4 linked regions of the Homo sapiens genome follow. The protein of the gene in region 3 purifies or fractionates together with the protein of the main gene of each other region. This does not show direct contact. Each region holds a gene or a part of one and is shown on either strand. Other genes may lie near its edges. The genes, in order: QRICH1, OGFOD1, TPRN and PPP1R2.

Region 1 (6,331 bases), on a different chromosome or scaffold from region 3:
CCCTGGCTAACACGGTGAAACCCTGTCTCTACTAAAAATACAAAAAATTACCCTGGCGTGGTGGCAGGCGCCTGTAGTCCCAGCTACTCGGGAGGCTGAGGCAGGAGACTGGCGTAAACCTGGGAGGCAGAGCTTGCAGTGAGCCGAGACCACACCACTGCACTCCAGCCTGGGCGACAGAGCAAGACTGCGTCTCAAAAAAAAAAAAAAAGAAAAAAAGGCCAGGTGTGGTGACTCACGCCTGTAATCCTAGCACTATGGACTTTGGGGGGCCAAGGAAGGTGGATAACCTGAGGTCGGGAGTTCGAGACCAGCCTGACTAACATGGAGAACCCCCGTCTCTACTAAAAATACAAAATGAGTTGGGCATGGTAGAGCATGCCTGTAATCCCAGCTACTTGGGAGGCTGAGGCAGGAGGATCGCTTGAACCTGGGAGGCGGAGGTTGCAGTGAGCCAAGATCGCACCATTGCACTCCAGCCTGGCGACAAAGTGAGACTCTGTCTCAAAAAAAAAAAAAAAAGGGGGGGGGGGAGCCTGGGATGATGGTGCATGCCTGCAGTCCCAGCTACTCAAGAGACTGAAACAGGAGGATTGCTTGAGTAGTCCAGGAGTTCTGGGCTATAGTGCTCTATGCCAATCGGGTGTCCACACTAAGTTCAGCATCAATATGGTGACTTCAAGGGAGCAGGGAATCACCAGGTTGCCTAAAGAGGGGTGAACCACCCCAGGTTGGAAATGGGGCAGGTCAAAACTTCCATACTGCAGTAGTAGAATCCTGTCTGTGGATAGCCACAGCACTCCAACCTGGGCACCACAGTGAGATCCCATCTCTTAGAAATAATAGTAATAATTTAAAAGACAAACAAGCTTGAGGTAGGAAAAATTCCATAAAACCATTAGAAAATATCAATACTAAGCTTGGCATGGTGGTTCTCGCCTGTAGTCCCAGCTACTTGGGAGGCCGAGGCAGGAGGATAGGATGGCTTGATCCCAGCAGTTTGAGCCTGCAATGAGCTATGATCATGCCACTGCACTCCAGCTTGGGTGACAGAGTGAGACTCCATCTCAAAAAAAAAAAATTAGCCAGGTGTGGTGCTGCATACCTGTAGTCCCAGCTACTTGGGAGGCTGAGGCAGGAGAATCGCTTGAACCCAGGAGGCACAATCTTGGCTCACTGCAACCTCCGTGCCCCCCAGGTTCAAGCGATTCTCCTGCCTCAGCCTCCCGAGTAGCTAGGATTACAGGCACCTGCCACCGTGCCTGGCTAATTTTTGTATTTTTAGTAGAGGCAGGGTTTCACCATCTTGGCCAAGCTGGTCTTGAACTCCTAAACTCATGATCCACCCGCCTCAGCCTCCCAAAGTGCTGGGATTACAGGTATGAGCCACCGCACCCGGCCCACATCCGGCTAATTTTTATATTTTTAGTAGAGATGAGGTTTTGCCATGTTGGCCAGGCTGGTCTCGAACTCTTAACCTCAGGTAATCCACTCGCTTCCACCTTCCAAAGTGCTGGGATTACAGGCATGAGCAACCACACCCAGCCTAAATTCTTTTTTATTTTTATTTTTATTGAGACACAGTGTTGCTCTGTCGCCCAGGCTGGAGCGTAGTGGCACGATCCTGGCTCACTGAAACCTCCGCCTCCTAGGTTCAAGCAATTCTCCTGCCTCAGCCTCCAAAGTGGCTGGGATTACGGGCACCCGCCACCATGCCCAGCTAATTTTTGTATTTTAGTAGAGACGGGATTTCGCCATGTTGGTCAGGATGTACTCAAACTCCTGACCTCAAGCGATCCACAGCATCGGTCTCCCAAAGTGCTAGGATTACAGGCGTGAGCCATCACATCCAGCCAAGATTGTGAGACCAGCCTGGCCAACATGGTGAAACCCCATCTCCACTAAAAATACAAAAACTAACAGGGCATGGTGGCAGCCACCCGTAATCCCAGCTACTCTAGAGGCTGAGGCAGGAGAATTGCTTGAATCCGGGAGGCGGAGGTTGTAGTGAGCTGAGACTGCGCCACTGCACTTCAGCCTGGGGAAAGAGTGAGACTCCACCTCAAAAAATGATAAAAAGGAATGCTAACAGTAGTTATGCCTAGATGATGGAACCACAGAGTAATTAAGTTTCTTCTGTTAAACACTCTTCTGAATTTTCCACAAGTGGTATTAATCTAAGGCTCACGCCTGTAATCCCAGCACTTTCCGAGGCAGGCAGATCACCAGATCAGGAGATCGAGACCATCCTGGCTATCACGGTGAAACCCCGTCTCTACTAAAAATACAAAAAAATTAGCCGGGTGTGGTGTTGGGCGCCTGTAGTCCCAGCTACTCGGGAGGCTGAGGCAGGAGAATGGTGTGAATCTGGGAGGTGGAGCTTGCAGTGAGCCAAGATCGTGCCACTGCACTCCAGCCTGGGCGACAGAGCAAGACTCCGTCTCAAAAAAAAAAAAATCATCTTTTTCTACACAGTGGCTATAGTGTAGTAATGGTAAGACACATAATTCTGGCTGATCATAGTATGATTTTCTTTCAAAATCTGAAAGAAACTAAACCGGCCGAAAGAGGTGGCTCATGCCTGTAATCCCAGCATTTTGGGAGGCCGAGGCAGGCGGATCACCAGGTCAGGAGATCGAGACCATCCTGGCTATCACGGTGAAACCCCATCTCTACTAAAAATACAAGTGGTTATAGTGTAGTAATGGTAACAGACACGTAATTCTGGTTGATCATAGTACGATTTTCTTTCAAAATCTGAAAGAAACTAAACCTGCCGAACGAGGTGGCTCATACCTGTAATCCCAGCACTTTGGGAGGCCGAGGTGGGTGGATCACCTGAGGTCAGTAGTTTGAGACCAGCCTGACCAACATGATGAAACCCCGCCTCTACTAAAAATACAAAAAAAATTAGCCAGGTGTGGTGACACGTGCCTGTAATCCCAGCTACTCGGAAGGCTGAGACAGGAGAATCGCTTGAACCTGGGAGGTGGAGGTTGCAGTGAGCCAAGACCATGCCACTGCACTCCGGCCTGGGCAACAAGGGCAAAACTCCATCTCAAAAAAAAAAAAAAGAAAAAGAAACTAAACCATAAAATACCAAAAACTTGTACAAAATAATGAAGACTTAACTTCAAGATGCTGCACATAAGACACAAAAGTTGAGCCTTCGTAATAAAGAGAAATGGAGAAACTTCTAAAAGAGACAAAAGATTCTTAATTAGCTCCAAGTAAAAGACTTAGTAAGAAGCAATAAAGAAATTAATTAAAGTATTTCTGAAAAACATGCAGCCATGAGGATATCTGAGTGTTCCCAATTTCTGGGACTCTGATGAGACTAATAATGAAAAAAGAAAATACTCTAATGCTCTTGGGGTGTATGAGGTCTGTAAACAAGCATTTACTTCTAAACGCTTTTAAATATAGCTGCATTGTAAAAAAAAAAAAATAAGTAACAATAAAGGAAAGCCAGCCCTCCCTTAAACAGACCCTGGACATTTTTGCTGGTATAAAATCAAATTGTTCACTGGTATCTCCTCTGTATCTCCCTCTTTTTCTTTTTCTTTTTTTTTTTTTGAGATGGAGTCTCACTCTGTCGCCCAGGCTGGAGTGCAATGGTGCGATCTCGGCTCACTGTAAGCTCCACCTCCTGGATTCACACCATTCTCCTGCCTCAGCCTCCCAAGTAGCTGGGACTACAGGCACCCACCACCACGCCCGGCTAATTTTTTTGTATTTTTAGTAGAGACGGGGTTTCGCCGTGTTAGCCAGGATGGTCTCGATCTCCTGACCTCGTGATCCTCAGCCTCCCAAAACTGGGATTACAGGTGTGAGCCACTGCGCCTGGCTCCTCTGTATTTCCTCCTACTGGAGCTTAGCATAGTGCCTGATGCACAGCAATTCTTCACTACATGAGTTATTATTTTTATTATTTTATTATTAGAACATAAGATGGTACCATGGACAAAGGTTACTCCAAAACAACAATCTATTACATTTCTATAGGTCTGTTTGCTAATTTTTTTCTTTTTTCCGTTTAGGTACCAAGGGAAGATCTTATTGCAATCACTGTTTCTTGGGTTTCTTATCCCTGATACCTCTTTTGGGCCCCCTGTATGGCTCTGCAGAGTGAGTCTTCAATCCGTGATGGACTAAAAGAAGTCTGAACTGCCTCAGAACCTTACCTCTTCCTTGGGCTTTGAGGCCCCTCAAGGTTCACATCTACTCCAACAATGGCTCTTCATAGCTTAGTCCAGTTTGAATACATTCATATGGGGCCCGGTGCAGTGGCTCACGCCTGTAATCCCCAGCACTTTGGGAGGCTGAGGTGGGCGGATCACCTGAGGTTGGGAGTTCAAGACCAGTCTGGCCAACGTGGTGAAATCCCATCTCTACCAAAAACACAAAAATTAGCCAGGCGTGGTGGTGGGCACCTGTAACCTCAGCTACTCGGGAGGCTGAGGCAGGAGAATCACTTGCACCCAGCAGCCGGAGGTTGCAGTGAGCCGAGATCGCGCCACTGCACTCCAGCCCGGGCAACAAGAGCAAAACTCTGTCTCAAAAAAATAAAATAAAATAGGCCAGGCACAGTGGCTCACGCCTATAATCCCAGCAGTTTGGGAGGCTGAGGCAGGCAGATCACAAGGAGTTTGAGACCAGCCTAGCTAATATGGTGAAACCCTGTCTCTACTAAAAATACAAAAATTAGCCAGGTGTGGTGCCTGTAGTCCCAGCTACTAGGGAAGCTGAGGCAGGAGAATTACTTGAACCCGGGAGGCGAAGGTTGCAGTGAGCCACGATCGCACCACTGCACTCCAGCCTGGGCAACAGAGCAAGACTCCATCTCAAAAAATAATAAGAAAAATAAATTTAAAAAAAATAAAAATAAAAAAATAGGCCAGGTGCAGTGGCTCATGCCTGTAATCCTAGCACGCTGGAAGGCCGAGTCGGGCATATCACGAGGTCAGGAGTTCAAGACCAGCCTGGCCAACATGGTGAAACCCCATCTCTACTAAAAATACAAAAATTAGCCAGGCGGGGTACCATGCGCCTGTAGTCCCAGCTACTCGGGAGGCTGAGGCAGAAGAATTGCTTGAACTCAGGAGGCGGAGGTTCATCTCAAAAAAAAAAAAAAAAAAAAAGAACAATGTCTTCTATGCTTCTTTGAAATAACTCCATATGTTTATAAGACAGACATGACTCCTTAAAATGGAAATTGATTTTTTTTCCATGTGAATATATTCATTTTATTTCATTTATTTTTTTTTTTTTGAGACAGAGTCTCACTCTGTCACCCAGGCTGGAATGCAGTGGCACAATCTCGGCTCACTGCAAGCTCTGTCTCCCGGGTTCACGCCAGTCTCCTGCCTCAGCCTCCCAAGTAGCTGGGACCACAGGCGCCCGCCACCACATCCAGCTAATTTTTTTGTATTTTTTAGTAGAGAGAAAGTTTCACCGTGCTAGCCAGGATGCTCTCGATCTCCTGACCTCATGATCTGCCCGCCTCGGCCTCCCAAAGTGGTGGGATTACAGGCGTGAGCCACCGTGCCCGACCAGAATTGACGTATTTCTATTCTTTTGCCTGGGTTTTGTTTCTTTGTATTTTTATTTTTTTGAGACGAAGTCTCGTTTTCTCACCCAGGATGGAGTGCAATGGCATCATCTCGGCTCAATGCAACCTCCGTTTCCCAGGTTCAAGTGGTTCTCCTGCCTCAAGCCTCCCTAGTAGCTTGAACTACAGGCGCACGCCACCCAGCCCAGCTAATTTTTTTGTATTTTTAGTAGAATCGGGGTTTCACCATATTGGCCAGGCTGTTCTCGAACTCCTGACCTCAGGTGAGGAGTTCATTTCCACGGCCCCCCTCGACCTCCCAAAGTGCTGGGATTACATGCCTGAGCCACTGCACCAGGCTTTTGTCTGTTTTTTTTTTTTTTTTTTTTTTAATGAGACAAGGTCTTGCTCCACTACCCAGGATAAAATGCAGTGGTGCATTCATAGATCCCTGCAGCCTCACACTCCTGGGCTCAAACAATCCTCCTGCCTCTGCCTCCCGAGTAGCTGGGACTACAGGTCCATGCTACCACATCCAGCTATTTTTATTTTTCTGTAGAAATGGGGTCTTGCCATCTTGCCCAGGCTGGTCTCCAACTCCGGGGCTCAAGCAATCCTCCCACCTTGGCCTCCCAAACTGCTGGGATTACAGGCATGAGGCACTGTGTTCCACCCATATTTCGATTTTTAAGGATACTAGCCAACTGCAGGGTTTGTGATAGAAGTTATCCCATTAGGCCATTTATATGCCCCATGCCAGAGGAGTCCCTGGTTTAGGGG
Region 2 (3,500 bases), on a different chromosome or scaffold from region 3:
GGCCTATTCCAGCTATTGCAAGAGCAGAGAGGGAGAGGGAGGGCAGTAGGAGATGAGGCCAAAAAGGTAATAGTGGGGCCGGGCACGGTGGCTCATGCCTGTAATCCCAGAACTTTGGGAGGCCGAGGCGGGCAGATCATGAGGTCAGGAGTTCGAGACCAGCCTGACCAACGTGGTGAAACCCTGTCTCTACTAAAAATACAAAAATTAGCCAGGCGTGGTGGTGCATGCCTGCAATTCCAGCTACTCGGGAGGCTGAGGCAGGAGAATCATTTTAACCTGGAGGCGGAGGTTGCAGTGAGCTGAGATCTCGCCATTGCACTCCAGCCTGGGCAACAAGAGCAAAACTCCGTCTAAAAAAAAAACCTAATAGGTGACTTAAAGCCATTTTAAGTACTTTGGCTTTGACTTAAAGAAATGAGAAGATTTCTGAAGCAAAAAAAAGAAAAAAAAAGTCATTGGAGTTTTTGAGAACATTTTTTAAGATAATATCCACATAACACAATTATCCACATAATTTCAATTTCTTGAAAGTGTATAATTCATTGGATTTTAGTATATTCACAATGTTGGGCGATCATCAGCACTTCCTAATTTCAGAACTTTTTAACACTCCAAATAGAAACCCTTGTGCCAATTTTGTTAGTCATTCCCTCTTCTCTCCTCCCCCCAGCTCCTCGCAACCACTTGCCTATTCTGGACATTACATATAAATGGAATCATATAATATGTAGCCTTTTGCATCTGACTTCTTTCACTTAGCCTAATGTTTTCAAGGTTCATCCATGTTGTGGTAGTATCAGTACGTCATTCCTTTTAATGGCTGAGTTGTATTCCATTCTATGGGTATACCACATTTTGTTTATTCATTAAATTGTTTCCACTTTTTGGCAATTATAAAGCTGCTATGAACATTTGTGCACAAGTTTTTATGTGAACATATTTTTACATATTTTTAATTATCTTGGGTCTATTTACATTTTAAAAGAATACAATGACTTCAGTGACTGTCTAAGCAGGTGACAGTAGAAGGGAAAATGGTTGATACACTAATAGAATAATCCCGGGGAGACACAGATAGCTTGAACCAGGTGTTGGCCTTTGGCAGTGGAAGTAGTAAGAAGTGGGCTTCTCTGGATATACAGTGGTATGTCATTTACACTCTGAGAAATTTATTGTTAGGTGATTTCATTGTTGTTTCAGCATCATCGAGTGCATTTACATAAATCTAGATGGTAGAACTTAATATATACCTAGGCTATATGGTATAGCCTATTGTTTACAGGCCACGAACAACCTGGCATTTTACTCTACTGAATACTATAGACAATACAATAGGAAGTATTTGTGTATCTAAACATATCTAAATATAGAAAAGGTATAGTAAAAATAGGTGTTACTTTATGGGACCACTATCGTATCTGTTGCTGACAGAAAATATCATGTGGCGATTGCCTGTATTTTGAAGGTAGAGATAGCAGAGTTTCACGATGGACTGGATATAAGGTGAGAGAGGAATCAAGGATGACCTCCTTTTTGGCCTGAGCCCTCGGAAAGATCAAGCTGATATTAACTGTGATGGGGAAAACTGCAGGTGGAGCAGATTTAGAGGGAGAAGACCAGAAGTTTAGTTTTGAACTTAAGTGTCAGAAACTCATTAGACATCAAAGAGGAGGCAAAGCCATGAGACCCAATAGAAGCCTGTGTACCTAGGGAAGGAGGCCAAGCATTAGGATGCAGAATACTCTATCATTAAGAAGTCAGGTGGAAGAGGAAAACCTAGCAAAGGAAGCTGGTAAGAAATAGCCACTGAGGAAGAAGAGAAACCAAGAGAGCATGGTAACCTGAAAGTAAAGTGAAAAAAAAGTCTCCAGGAGGAAGGAGTGATATAGTAGGTCAAATGCTGCTGATGAGACAAGGAAGAACTGAAAACTGATTATCAGATTTAGTAATGTGGAGGTTATGGGTGATCTTGACAAGTGTAGTTTCAGTGCAGTAGTACAAGCGAAAGCCTGATTAAAATGGGCTTACCAGAGACTGACAGGAGAGGAACTGGACACAGTGCAGACAACTCTTATAAGAATAAAATTCTGCTGTCAAGAGAAGCACAGCAATGGGATGGTAGCTGAAGGGAAACTTAGGTCAAGAACTTTGTTTTTTTCTTATGAAAAGAACAGTTTTTTTTTTCTTTTTGTTATGTTGAAGGGAATGATCCAGAGAGAAAGAAAAACTAATGTAGTTTCCTCAACTGTGAAACAGGTATAGTAATGGGATTGTTTTGAGGATTTAATGAATAAATATAAAGCACTTAGCATGGCATAAAGTATGCACTCAATAATGCTTGCTTTAAAAAATACAGAATACTGGGCAAGTCCTAATGACAGAGTTGGTTATGGGAGTTGGAAGATGTCAGAGACCCAATTATCAAGTCAATTCATACCACAAGCAAAGAAAAGAGCATGGATGAGGATTAAAGGAGCAGGAGAATGAAACCAGATTTTACATCTACTGTCTTAGGGTGAAGAGTTCCTGTCCAAAAGGGATCAACAGTAAAAATTATTCACAGTAGAGTTTCACCAAACTTCCATGTGGATCCAAAGTAATGGCAGCTCCTTTTTTTTTTTCAATCACCCAAGGCTCTTTTTATTATTTTGCCTTATATCTTCCAGTTTTGTTTTTTTTTTTTTGAGGTGGAGTCTCACTTTGTCACCCAGGCTGGAGTACAGTGGCGCGATCTCAGCTCACTGCAACCTCCACCGCCTGGGTTCAAGCGATTCTCCTGCCTCAGCCTTCCGAGTAGCTGGGATTATAGGGGCGTGCCACCACGCCTGGCTAATTTTTTGTATTTTTAGTAGATACGGGGTTTCACTGTGTTAGCCAGGATGGTCTCCATCTCCTGACCTTGTGATCTGCCCGCCTCAGCCTCCCAAAGTGCTGGGATTACAGGCATGAGCCACTGTGCCCGGCCATCTTCCAGTATTTTTAATCTTCCAAATTGCATGAAGTAAAAATTATTGTGATGTTTCAATTTTAATAATCAGATGCGTATGGCCCCAAATCAACAAGAGGCCAAGGGTGCGATAATCACAACAGCAGGTAACTGCGGTTTTTAATTAACCTGTGCAACCTTACCATGGAAAGCAGTTTAGTTTTCAGCTTTCTGAATTATTAAGAGTCATATCTTTCATGTATTTATCCTGGTTAATTCAGTCATGTGTATAAGGTCCAAAGACAGAAAGATCTGGGGAAGGTCAGGATACAACCATCTGACCAATCAGCTCTAGTGTAAAAGAATAAGAGAGAGAAATTCGTTATTTACTCTCTTATCCCAGATAAAATAAAATGGGAAAATGCAAAAAAAAAAATTATTCTTCATCTTTTTAATCTTTCTTTTTTTTTTCCCCCCCCAATTTGAAGCACAGATGTCCCTGAGGTTTACAAAGGATTCATGTACTGAAAGATATACCCCCAAACTGGGGAAACCAATGACCTGTATTTCT
Region 3 (6,142 bases):
CCACTGTGAACAGGGGCCTCTGTGAGCCGTCAAGGCCAGGCAGTAGCCTCAGGCACCATCACCCACCTAACATAGTTGAGAGTTGGCCTGCGGCTGTGCAGAGTAGGGGGCTGCCTCCACTGAGCCTGGGTGCCAGCAACCCCAGCAGTGACCCCTTCCTCACCCTGCTGCCCCTCTGGCCCTCGTCCTCCATCCCCACTTCGTAGGCTGCAAGATTTCACATCTGAGCAAATTCTTTCCTTCTCCCAGTGGCCTTGAAGCCCAGGCAGGGCTGCTGGTTCCCAGGGGTAATGGGGGCAGTGGGGACCAATGGTCAGGACTCTCCACCTCCCCTGAACGGGGCTTGCATGGGGCTAAGCTCCCCACAACAGCCGAGCTCCCACTGCTCAGCTGCACTCAGCCCGGCCCCAGTGGTCCCTAATGAATATGAGCGGCCCCCGCTTGCAGCAGATGGAAGCAGCCCTGAGGGAGCTCGAAATATTAAACTCTTCCTGGGCACAGGACACCAGCAGCTCAAGTTCCTCCTCCTCCCCTAGAAGGACCCGGAGGCAGGAGCCGGGCCCCAGGCAGAGAACCACCGCAGCCAGGCACAGGACGAGACGGCCTCTCAGGAGGCAGCCGAGGAGGCCACACAGGGCTGCCAGGACAGGGCCAAGGGCACACACTCTTGCCATCATGCTCTCTCCCACAGCGGCCACACGGCCCACACAGCCAGGTGTACCCTCAGGTCCCTTCTCACCACGAATACCCCCGCCTCCCACAGCTGGGGGGCCACGCTTTGTGCCCAAACCCCCAGCTTCCCCTCTCAGCACAGCTCACACAGAGCCCTGCTGGGCAACTCAGCTGCCTGCTTGCACCCCTACCCCAGGCCCCGGCACCCCAGCCGTCTGCATGGATGAGCGGGGGAGGGGGAGGCCACCTGGGCCAGACAAAACAAGGAGGAAAGCACCCGCTCCTGTCCCTTAACTGCCCTGCCTGTGGCTAGGCCCACCTGGCCCTCCAACGCTCATCCCACAGGAGGCCAGGCAGGGAGAGGCTGGGACAGACCTCACAGGCACCCACCCACTGCCAGCCCACTTGGGGAGGGGGTCACCCGGCCCTCCCAGACTCATGCTTTGGGACAGATACCCCAGGTGGAGGTGCTCAAGGCAGGACAGGGCTGGTGGCTAGAGCTCTCCCACAGCCCCGAAGTCCAGCAGCAAATGGGGTTTCCAGTCGCCCTGGATATGTGGAGCTAACCCAGATGACCCCGAAGCCCTCCAGGCCCAGCCCCCACGGCTGAGAACACAGAAGGGCTGGCTGCCAGGGCCGCGGGATTAGTGCCCTCACTCGTGCACATGACCGGTCCCAGCAGGGGGGCCGCGGGGGCTGGGTGCACATGGGCCCTGAGCCTGGTACAGCCTGGCCAGGCGGTGCGGGGCGGGGGGTGGACAGGCAGCCCCTGTCTGCCCTCAGCTGGGGCCCGGGGCTCTGGTCACGTCCTGCCTCCCCAGGTCTCCTCAGCTGGGCTGGTGCCTGCTGACTCGCACAGCCCTCCCCTCCCACTGTGGGGACAGGACACCCCGTGACTCATACGGTGGGCAGCCTGAAGACCCCGAGACGCAGGATGGGCAGAGGGTGTGGCCAGGGTCTGGGACCGCACGCACCTGGCCGCAGCCTATCAGGGACTTTGCCTGGCACAGCCAACAGAGCAGGCAGGTGGGTCCCAGCTCAGCCCAGCCTCCCAGCAGAGCCTCCCGGCTTCTCAGGACCCTTCTGTTCTCGCTCCACCCACCCTGCCTGTGCACACCTAGCTTTGGTTACCAAAGGGCCTGGCCTCCACCTGGGACAAAGGGCCAAGCAGCCAGCCCCAACCTGCCCAGATGGAGGTGTGAGCTGAGCCCAGCCCCGCCTCTCCCTCCTCCCTGCACACAGCTACCTGCCTCCCATCCCCCACGCAGCCCCAGCCAAGGCTCCCACGGGTGGCCGGACCCTAGACCAGGCTGCACGAGTGCAATGCCCAGAGCAGGCTCCCGGGAAGCTGGGTGCTCCCTGAGTCAAGTGTGGCCCCAGCGCCAGGCACGGCCTCCACCCATGAGAAAGCTGAGGGAGGAGCGTCCAGGCCGCTCCTGGGGTTCCCGGCTTCAGAAGGACCACCTAGGCGGCACCTATGGGAAGAGCTGGCGGAGAGACGAGAAGGAAAGGAAAACTGACAAGAAGGGACTCAGCCAACAACAGTGAGAGCCTCTGGCCACCCAGGATCTGCCTGCACAGGGGTAGAGGCAGGGAGGAGCCCAGCCTGGGGCTTGGTGCTGGCCAGGAGGTGGTGTCAGTAGGAAGGGCAGATGTCAGGGTGGCTCTTGGGTCTAAGGATCAGAGAGCGAGGCCTTGGGAGTGGAGGCGGAAGTTGCACAGCAGGTGAGGGCGGACGGCCCTGGGTGTCCAGGACTGAGCCCTGGGGACACTGACACGCTCCAGCTGGGCAGAGAGCCAAGAGGGGAGGAGGGGAGTAGGGCAGAGGGGACGGGAAGGGGCCGCCAGACAGGTAGGAGCCAGGCCAGGTGGTGCTCCACGAAGAGGAAAAGCTACAGCGCCGAGTCTCAAGGGAGGCAGGTGTGAGGATGAGAATGGGTGTCCCACCCTCCAGGAAAGCAGCCCGGGCGTGGCTGCAGCACACAGCAGTCTGCTCCAAGCTCAGCCCTGCAAGACGGGGCACCTGCCGCTTCTGCCAATGGATAACTTAAGTGGGCCTGTGCCTGCCAGGCAGGCCCCCACCCCGGCACACAGGCCAGCAGCTCCCCACTGCCCAGAGCAGGGCTGCACCCCTCGGAGGCGGGCAAGGGTATCATACCCTGTGCAGGCACAGCCAGCCCTGGGGCAGGCCCCTCACCGACTCCCACCACCCAGACAACTCCACTGAAGAGCTGCCCTTCACCTGTACCCCAGGAAAAGCAGCAGCACCGCCAGCCGCTGAGGTGCACAGTGAGCCGTTGGCCCACAGTCAGGTCCTGCTAGACTCCGGGCCCTGCAATCCCTGCACTCCACCCCCACGCCCGGGGGTCACAGCCAGTGGTCCCAACCAAAGGCTGGGGTCAGCACGGTGGCTCACGCCTGTAATCCCAGCACTTTGGGAGGCTAAGGCAGGCGGATCATCTGAGGTCAGGAGTTCGAGACCAACCTGGCCAATATGGTAAAACCTCGTCTCTACTAAAAATACGATAATTAGCTGGGCATGGTGGCAGGCGCCTGTAATCCCAGCTACTTGAGAGGCTGAGGCAGGAGAATCGCTTGAACCCTGGGAGATGAAGTTTGCCCTGAGCCGGGATCCTGCCACTACCCTCCAGCCTGGGCGACAGAGCAAGACTCTGTCTCAAAAAACAAAAAATAAAAAAAGGCTGGCCAGGGTGGTCAGACAAGGCCAGGCACAGGACCCGCAGGGGCACCTCGCACCCCCACCAGTGAGTGCTCCTGGCCCAGGGGCCACAGAGTACATGGGACAGCCCTGCCCCACAGCCCACCGTGCCGAGGCCAGCAAGCCATTCTGAAAGGCAGGGCAGCCCCACGCCTCTGTCCCCTCCTGATGGACATTCTGGCTCTTCCCAGGCAGGGCAGCTGGCCTGTACCCAGGCGGGAAGTCACAGCCAGCAGGTCATGCTGCTCTGGCAGGGCCCTGCCCGGGCCACCTGGCCATGCCAGGTATCGTCCATCTGGACCCCCACCCCTTCAGGCTGGCCCGAGCTCCTCCCTCCTGCTGGTCCAGGGCCTGTTTCCCAGGCTCAGCCTCTCCCCCACTGCATCTTCCTGCTCCTGTTGGCCCTCCGGCCCCCACCCTGCCCTTCTGACCCTAACCCAGCCGCAAATGACCCCCACAGTTCTGTCCCTTCTTTGCTTTTTTCTTTTTGAGACAGAGTCTCACTCTGTCGCCCAGGCTGGAGTGCAATGGCGCGATCTCGGCTCACTGCAAGCTCCGCCTCCCGGGTTCAAGCAATTCTCCTGCCTCAGTCTCCTGAATAGCTGGGATTATAGGCGCCCGCCACCACGCCCAGCTAATTTTTTTATATCTTCTTAGTAGAGACGGGGTTTCACCACCTTGGCAAGGCTTGTCTTGAACTCCTGACCTCGTGATCCACCCGCCTCGGCCTCCCAAAGTGCTGGGATTACAAGGTGTGAGCCACCGCGCCCAGCCCAGTTCTGTCCCTTCTGAGGGCAAGATGGCCAGACTCTAGGCAGTGGCCTCAAGTCCCAGGAAGAAGCCAGGCTCCCAGGGATGGCCACACAGGTTAAGGGGAGGGGTTCTAGAAACAGAAACCTGAACTCCGTACTCGCCCCACAAGCCCCATGACCCCGTCTGACTCCCAAGCTGAGGCGCAGTTTCTCTCTACAAAGGGGGAGCTGTCCCCACTGCCACCTCTGGGGCAAGCCCAGGAGGTGCCCACCTCACACAGCAGCCAGGGCCAAAGGTACAGACGCAGGGGAGGGAGAGGCAGACAGGAGCTGGAGGAGAGAGGCTGTGGCTATCAGACTGACCCCACCTTGATGGGCTGGGGTGATGCTCGGGCGAGGGTCGGGGAGATAGACCCACGTGGCTCCAGGAGTGGGAGGGGCCCTGGACCCAGCCCCAAGCCCCCACTGGAAGCACCTCAGGAGGGTTAGCACGGATGCCTGGGCCGGCAGATAGAGCCGGCAGGGGCACCAACGCCCTGGTTCCAGGAGGGGAGTATGGCACAGGGAGAGGCGCAATGCCAAGGCCAATCCCGGGCAGGAAGCAAACAGAGGGAGGCAGCAGCCTATCTGCTGAGGGAGCCTGCAAGGTCCCATCCCCAGCCTGGGGAAACTGAGGCTGGAGGACAGCCCGCCTCAGGGGTGAGCCTAGCCAGCAATGGCTCTGGGGCAGTGCCTGGATAGGAAGACCCAAGGGAGGCGCCCCAGGCGCCCCCCCTCAGTCCCCAGGAAAGGTACACCTGCTTCCTGACAGGTCACCGCAGACCGGGAAGTCACATGGAGCTGCCCTTGGAATTTGCCCCAGGGAACAAATACAGGTGCAGGAATTACCAGAAAGAATCTGAAGATTTTTTTTCCTGTGCCCAGAGGATTCCAGGCCACTGGCCAAGAGGGAGACTCCCCTGCCTGGCTGGCTCAGAGCCTCCGAAGGCCCCTTCTCCCCAGCAAGCTTCCCAGGCCCAGAACAGGCATACACGGCACTCCTGCCCAGCTCCCAACCAGTGTGCCTTCTGGGGAGCTGATGGCCCTCTCCCAACTGGCTGGTGGGCTGCACCCCAAGGCTGACTGTGATGCGAGGATCCAGCCAACCCCGATCATCTGGCCCTTCCCATTCATAGCGTGGCGCCTGGCGCCCATGCAGCGGGCCTCCAGGAGACCATGTGAGGCCACCCCTCAAAGCCAAGCCCAGGGAGGAACCCACAAGCCCAGGTCTGCTTCTTTCAGCTGGACTCACAAAGGGACAGACCCGCCCAGCTAATTCCAGATGAGCCACAACAACTGGCAAGGGACATAGCACTGTCTGCCCTGTCGCTCTCCAGCAGCCTGGCAAGGCACACAGCAGGCCAGCTGTCCCCACGGCCCAAGTCAGGGGGCTCCACTGGGGCCCTGGACCCAGCACGGCCCACCCAGCCCCAGCTCGCCTCAAGTCCATGTAGAAACCATCCTTTGCCCAGGCCAAGCGTCCTGGGATCAGGGCAGGTGCTGCCCCCACAGTTCTGTGAGCTGTCACTCTCTCCCTGCCAGCCAGTGGCCCTGCCCCCACCACTGACCTTCTTTCTTGAGGAGCCAGCCTTGGTGAGGCAGGACTTCTGCAGGGCCAGGTAGCCGCCAATCACCTCGATCTCATGCACGGTGGGGTAGCGCTTCTTCAACGTGGGCCCCAGGAGGCAACTAGCCTCCTCCTCCTCGGCCTCCCGTGGCCGAGGCTCCCTGTTGGCCTGACTGAAGTGCTGGTCCTGCAGAGTCCCTGGCTTCCTCTTGGGCACCACTGTGAAGGTGTTGCTGCCCCGGGGCTGAAGCTCTGCCACGCACCCGGGCCTGGCAGGGTGCAGAGGCCTGGCAGGGTGCGGGAGGTAGGGTAGTTTGGCTGCTTGGGGGGCCTCCTCCGAGTCTACCTCATCGATGAAGGTGACAGGCAGCCCCGGCCTCACATATTCCCGGC
Region 4 (6,331 bases), on a different chromosome or scaffold from region 3:
TAGACTTTTTTCTTATCATTATTCCCTAAATGATACAGTGTGTAACAACTATTTGCACAGTATTTACATTTTATTAGGTAATATAACTAACACAGAGATGATTTAACACATACAGGAGGATGTGCATAATTATATACATCTACAATGCCATTTTATATCAGAGACTTGAGTGTCTGAGGATTTCGGTATCTGAGGGAGGTCCTGAAACCTCCATGGATAATGAGGAATAACTGTACTGAAAACGTAAATGATCTGGAAAAAAAAATACTACAAAGTTCCAATTATTCCATCCAGTGGGAAGGAACAAGTAATGCAAAGTAAATCACTGTCTGGTTTTAGAACATGTATTTCTACATCAATCTTAAGATAGAGACAAAAGATCTACGCAGACACAAGACTGAGTAAAGTAACAAAATTCGATCCCAAAGATCTAATTTCGGAAGTTTACAAGTGATTTAGCTTTCTCACTCTACCCTCTAATGAAAAATTTGCTCCCCACTTCAATGCAAAAATGGGCAACCTTAATTCTTAAGCCACTGCAAAGTATATAAAGCAGAACTCAGCTATTTATAAAATACTGCCAGTTTATACATTTCCTGGTTAATTAAGGTGACAAGTAAGTCTATAGTTTAGATGACGTTCTTTTTTCTAAGGGAAGTTGAAATTGATCTATGTTATTGAGTTTAATCAAGCAAAGTAAGGTAAAATAAACATTTTGTTAATTTATAGAATCGTTCTATAGAAAATTCTAGTTGTAAAATTTACTGAATTATGTTTATATATGTACATGTATACAGAAGCAATAACTTCTTGTATACTAACTGTGAGATTCTTAGATAATAAGACATGATGTTTCTATAAAAAGCATCTTCACTTAAATAAAATTTTTTTTTTTTTTGAGACAGGGTCTCATTCTGTCACCCAGGAGTACAGTGGCACCATCACGGCTCACTACAGCCTCAATTTCCCGGGCTCAAGTGATACTCCCACCTAAGCCTCTTGTGTAGCTGGGACTACAGGCATGTGCTACCATTCCTGGCTTAATTCTTTTTATTTTTTGTAGAGACGGGGTCTCTCTATGTTGCCCAGGCTCATCTCCAATTCCTGAGCTCAAGCAATCCTCCCACCTCAGCCTCCTAAAGTGCTGGGATTACAAGGATGAGCTACCATGGCTGGCCAAATGAAACTCTCAAAAAGAAAAAAGAAAGTCATGGAAAGAAATGATAAAACTGAGCAGTGAACTGATAAAAGCAGGACACAGGTTATCTCTGCATGCACATAGCCTCAATTACTTAGGGACCAAATAACTTTTCTGGTTATTTGAATGGCAAATATCTACCATTCAAATTATATTTATAAACAGTCAAAAAATAATGGCCATAGCTATTCTGAAATTTTTTTTCTTTTTCTTTAGAGATAAGGTCTCCCTCTGTCATCCAGGCTGGAGTGCAATGACGTGATCATGGCTAATTGCAGCTACAACCTCCAGGGCTCAGACAGTCCTCCTGCCTCAGCCTCCTAGCTAGCTGGGACTACAAGTACACACCACCACCTCTGGATAATTTTACTTTTTTTATTTGAGACAGAGTTTCGCTCTGGTTGCCCAGGCTGGAGTGCAATGGCGCGATCTCAGCTCACTGCAACCTCTGCCTCCCAGGTTCAAGTGATTCTCCTGCCTCAGCCTCCCGAGTAGCTGGGGTTATAGGCGCCCACCACCACATCTGGGAATTTTTATGTATTTTCAGTAGAGACGGGGTTTCACCATGTTGGCTAGGCTGGTCTTGAACTCCTGACCTTAGGTGATCCACCCGCCTCAGGCTCCCAAAGTGCTGGGATTACAGGCGTGAGCTGCTGTGCTTAGTCTAATTTGTTTTAATTTTTTTTGTGGAGATAAGAGTCTCACTCTGTTGCCCAGGTTGGTCTTGAACTCCTGGGCAAGAGTTCTTTGGGGAAGGGCGTGGTGGCTCATGCCTGTAATCCCACACTTTGGGAGGCTGAGGTGGGTGGATCACTTGAGGTCAGGAGTTTGAGATCAGCTTGGCCAACACGGTGAAACCCTGTCAATACTAAAAATACAAAAACTAGCCAGGCGTGGTAGTGGGTGCCTGTAATCCCAGCTACTTGGGAGGCTGAGGCACGAGAATCTCTTGAACCTGAGACATGGAGCTTGCAGTGAGCTGAGATCGTGCCACTGCTCTCCAGCCCGGGTGACAGAGTGAGACTCTGTCTCAAAAAAATAAAAAATAAAAAATAAAAAACAGCATTCTTTGGGAGGCTAAGCGATCCTCCTGCTTCAGGCTCCCAAAGTGCTGAGATTACAGGCGTTGAGCCACTGCACCTGGCCTCAACTATTTTTTTAAATCATGTCTGATCTTAATTCTCCTAGGATACTTATCCCCAACTAACACAAGTGAGTGACGGATGGCCACTACATTTAGTAAAAAGAAAGTACACTCTGATTTTGGATTCTGGTACAATAAAGGTTTTAATATACATTTTAGAAGTTGGGCACGGTGATGTGTGCCCATAGTCAGCTACCTGGGAGGCGGAGGAGGGAGGATCACTTGAGTCGGGAGTTCCAGGCTGTAGTGTGCTATAACTGTGCCTGTTAATAGCCACTGCACTGGGCAACATAGCCAGATCTTGTATCTTTTTTTTTTTTTAAGATTTTTAAAGTATATACCTGCAATTTAGGAGAAAAATAAGAATATAAACCTCTTTTTAGCATGCGTATTTTTTTTTAACTAATTGTAATTTTATTGTTTTTCTTCCCCTCAATTTATTTTTACTTCAATAGGTTTTTGGGAAACAAGTGGTGTTTGGTTACACAGGTAAGTTCTTCAGTGGTAATTGCTGAGATTTTGGTGCACCCATCACCCGAGCAGTGTACACGGCACCCAATGTGTAGTCTTTTATCCCTCAACCCCCTCTCACCCCTCCCATCCCCAAAGTCCACTGTATCATTCTTATGCCTTTGCTTAGCTCCCGCTTATAAGTGAGAACATACAAGGTCTGGTTTTCCATTCCTGGGTTACTTCACTTAGAGTAATGGTCTCCAACTCCATCCAGGTTGCTGTGAATGCCATTATTTTGTTCCTTTTTATATATATTCCATGGTACATACATATATACCACAAAAAACTGTGTATTTCTTCACTCAAATTTCATCAGTATTGAGTTTCAGCATCTGTACCTATTTCATTATTTCTTTTTATGCTCATCAGTCTTTAATATCTTCAAGTTTTTTATTTTTACTGTTTTTGTTAGTAACAGGTTATTTCAAATTATCTTCCAAAGTTTTCACCCACTGACTTAAAATACAGTAGTTCTTAACTCTTCTTTCACTACAGAACAAATGGAAACAGCAGTTACCTCTATTTTAATGGTAACTTTTGGATTTATGCTGTCTTAATTCAATGACAAAATATTTTAATCTTGGAAATCTTTTATTTTTTTCAATACAAGGTAGGTAGGGCATAACTATTTTTTTTTTTTTTTTTTTTTTTTTTTTTTGTAGAAAGAGTCTTACTATGTTGCTTAGGCTGGTTTTGATCTCCTGGCCTGAAGCAATACTCCCACCTCTGCCTCTGTAATCTCAAAGTGCTGGGAGTACAGGCAAGAGTCACCATGCCCAGCCAAGGTATTATCTTTTTTTTTTTTTTTTGAGACAGAGTTTTGCTCTTGTCGCCCAGGCTGGAGTGCAATGGTGTGATCTTGGCTTACAGCAACCTCCGTCTCCCGGGTTCAAGCAATTCTCCTGCCTCAGCCTCCCGAGTAGCTGGGATTACAGGTGCCCGCCACCATGCCTGGCTAATTTTTGTATTTTTTTTTTTTTTTAGTAGAGATGGGGTTTCACCACGTTGGCCGGGCTGGTCTTTCACCTCAGGTGATCCGCCCACTTTGGCCTCCCAAGGTGCTGGGATTACAGGCGTGAGCCACAGTGCTCGGCCCAAGGTATTATCTTAATTAGGTATCTATACCTATTTAGAATCCTCATCTTCTCATAATGCTTCTTGCATTATTTTTGTCTTCATACTGGTTACTGCTGCGTAATGTAATTTCACAATTCATTTAGGAAATTCTGAGACTTGAAATTGTCAAAAATTACATGTAATGATCTGAACAACAATATTACATTAAGTTAAAAAATGAAGACATAAACAGTAATAATGACACCTATCTTTCAGTGGGTTACCATCCATGCAGTTATGCTTCTCTGCAAAGAGACTGAGTAAACCCCAGATTTCTACTTGGGAAGCAAACAAGCCCATATCTCATCTTCCTTTCATGGAAGTTAAAACTAATATATGCACCATTAGTAGCTAGCAACCACTGAGGTGCAACAAATAAACATTTACTACTACCATTATAATGTACAAAATGGCTTTCTTAATTTTAAACTTACACATCACTTAAACCATTACTAAACAAATTGCAGTTAGGTTACTGACTTCACTAGTGCTCCAGTAACAAATCTACAATAAAACAAATTCAAATAGGCTGTTATCCAGACGTTCATATGAAATGCAAAATGGAAGTAAGTCACAAGAGGAATGACGTCTACGTAACATTACCTATGGTAAGGAGTGCTTGGTTCATCTATTTTCATTAAACCATAGTCTTTGTCTGCTGGATGATACGTCGCCAAGATGTTCATTTCATCCCACTTCTGGGATTTTTTGCTAAAATTAAAAAGAAAAAACGTTTTTCCCAATGCAGAAAAAGATAAACCTGAATATCAAAATTCACAAATGTCCAAATTTAACATTTCAACTTCTATTTGATGGCCAACCTCTATTTTCACATATACTTTCTTGGAATAGAAGCTGACTCAGGGTAAAAACCATTAAGTAACTACAATAAAATGTCAGTAAATATAGAACACCTAGTGCCCACATATTAAAAACACAATATTTAGTATCTATATCAGGCATTCAAAACATTACCATACTATGACATGCTTAGCCTTCATTTGGCCTATAAAATAATGCAAGTCAAAATCTATACATTCGCTGAAGTCAGTAGGCATTTTTGATCTATATATCAGTAACTGTTCGGTAAAAAACACAACAGGAGTACTTCCTTGGCATAATTTCTTTCTGGGATATCTGTTAACACTCAGAACATAAAGATTCAAACAATAAAACTATAGAGAAAACCTCATCAAACTCAGACACCACTAAATCATTAGATTGCAAATAAATTACAGCTCTGTTTATTTCTAATCTAGAAAAATAAAGGTTTGCTCAGAAATGGTGTATTCAAACCTACTTGAAGAGCAATAGACGTTCTCTCTAAGTACTTTATTATTTTTGTTTTGTTTTGAGACGGAGTCTCACTCTGTTGCCCAGGCTGGAGTACAGTGGCGCCATCTCGGCTCACTGCAACTTCCACCTTCCCTGTTCATGCGCTTCCCCTGTCTCAGCCTCCCGAGTAGCTGGGATGACAGGCGCGCACCACCACGCCCAGCTAATTTTTGTATTTTTAGGAGAGACAGGGTTTCACCATGTTGGCCAGGCTGGTCTTGAACTCCTGATCTCGTGATCTGCCTGCCTTGGCCTCCCAAAGTGCTGGGATTACAGGTGTGAGCCACCAGGCCGGGCCATTATTTTTGTTTTTTGAGACAGAGTTTTGCTCTTGTCGCCCAGGCTGGAGTGCAATGGCACGATCTCGGCTCACTGCAACCTCTGCCTCCTGGGTTCAAGCGATTCTCCTGCCTCAGCCTCCTGAGTAGCTGGGATTAAAGGTGTCTGCCACCACACCTGGCTAATTTTTGTATTTTTGGTAGAGACGGGGTTTCACCATGTTGGCCAGGCTGGTCTTGAACTCCTGACCTTACGTGATCTGCCTGCCTGGGCCTCCCAAACTGCTGGGATTCCAGGAGTGAGCCACCGTGCCTGGCCTATAAGTACTTTAGAAACATCTGTTAAATTTCATGCAATGAAGTATTTGCACAACTATTAAGGTGCTCGATAATTAAATGCTTTCATTTTAAATGCTTACATACTCCTTAAAAAAGACCTCAAAGACCTTTCTACAAGCCAACATTATTTTGTTACATATAGTTTGTTACTTAGTATGTACTTGGAAAAACCTGCCTTAAAAAGAATCAATGTAAATGTTACACTGATTTAAATAATGCTTTCCACATTTGGTCTAAATTGTTAAGGTTTTACTGCAGGTATTTTCAATTTCCCAGATCCTGAAATACCCTTTAAGAATAACATACTCAACATTTTAATAACATATTCCCTTTTCCATACTCTCAAAATGGTTTGATGAGTTACCTTAAAAATTATACAGGCCTACTCTTGCAGGTGACTTCGTATTC

The links.
Region 1: the proteins of TPRN (region 3) and QRICH1 purify together in Homo sapiens (affinity purification with mass spectrometry; one large-scale study listed by BioGRID and IntAct). This does not show direct contact.
Region 2: the proteins of TPRN (region 3) and OGFOD1 purify together in Homo sapiens (affinity purification with mass spectrometry; one large-scale study listed by BioGRID and IntAct). This does not show direct contact.
Region 4: the proteins of TPRN (region 3) and PPP1R2 purify together in Homo sapiens (affinity purification with mass spectrometry; one large-scale study listed by BioGRID and IntAct). This does not show direct contact.

Annotation. Positions count from the first base shown.
Region 1 is NC_000003.12:49,082,699-49,089,029, forward strand, and holds part of QRICH1 (transcriptional regulator QRICH1), read right to left. Parts: intron 1-6,331. UniProt on the Homo sapiens protein: Transcriptional regulator that acts as a mediator of the integrated stress response (ISR) through transcriptional control of protein homeostasis under conditions of ER stress.
Region 2 is NC_000016.10:56,454,554-56,458,053, reverse strand, and holds part of OGFOD1 (prolyl 3-hydroxylase OGFOD1), read right to left. Parts: intron 1-3,500.
Region 3 is NC_000009.12:137,193,237-137,199,378, forward strand, and holds part of TPRN (taperin), read right to left. Parts: coding exon 5,751-6,142; intron 1-5,750. UniProt on the Homo sapiens protein: Essential for hearing. Required for maintenance of stereocilia on both inner and outer hair cells. Necessary for the integrity of the stereociliary rootlet.
Region 4 is NC_000003.12:195,525,220-195,531,550, forward strand, and holds part of PPP1R2 (protein phosphatase inhibitor 2), read right to left. Parts: intron 4,683-6,331; coding exon 4,575-4,682; intron 2,684-4,574; coding exon of another isoform or gene 2,539-2,683; intron 1-2,538. UniProt on the Homo sapiens protein: Inhibitor of protein-phosphatase 1.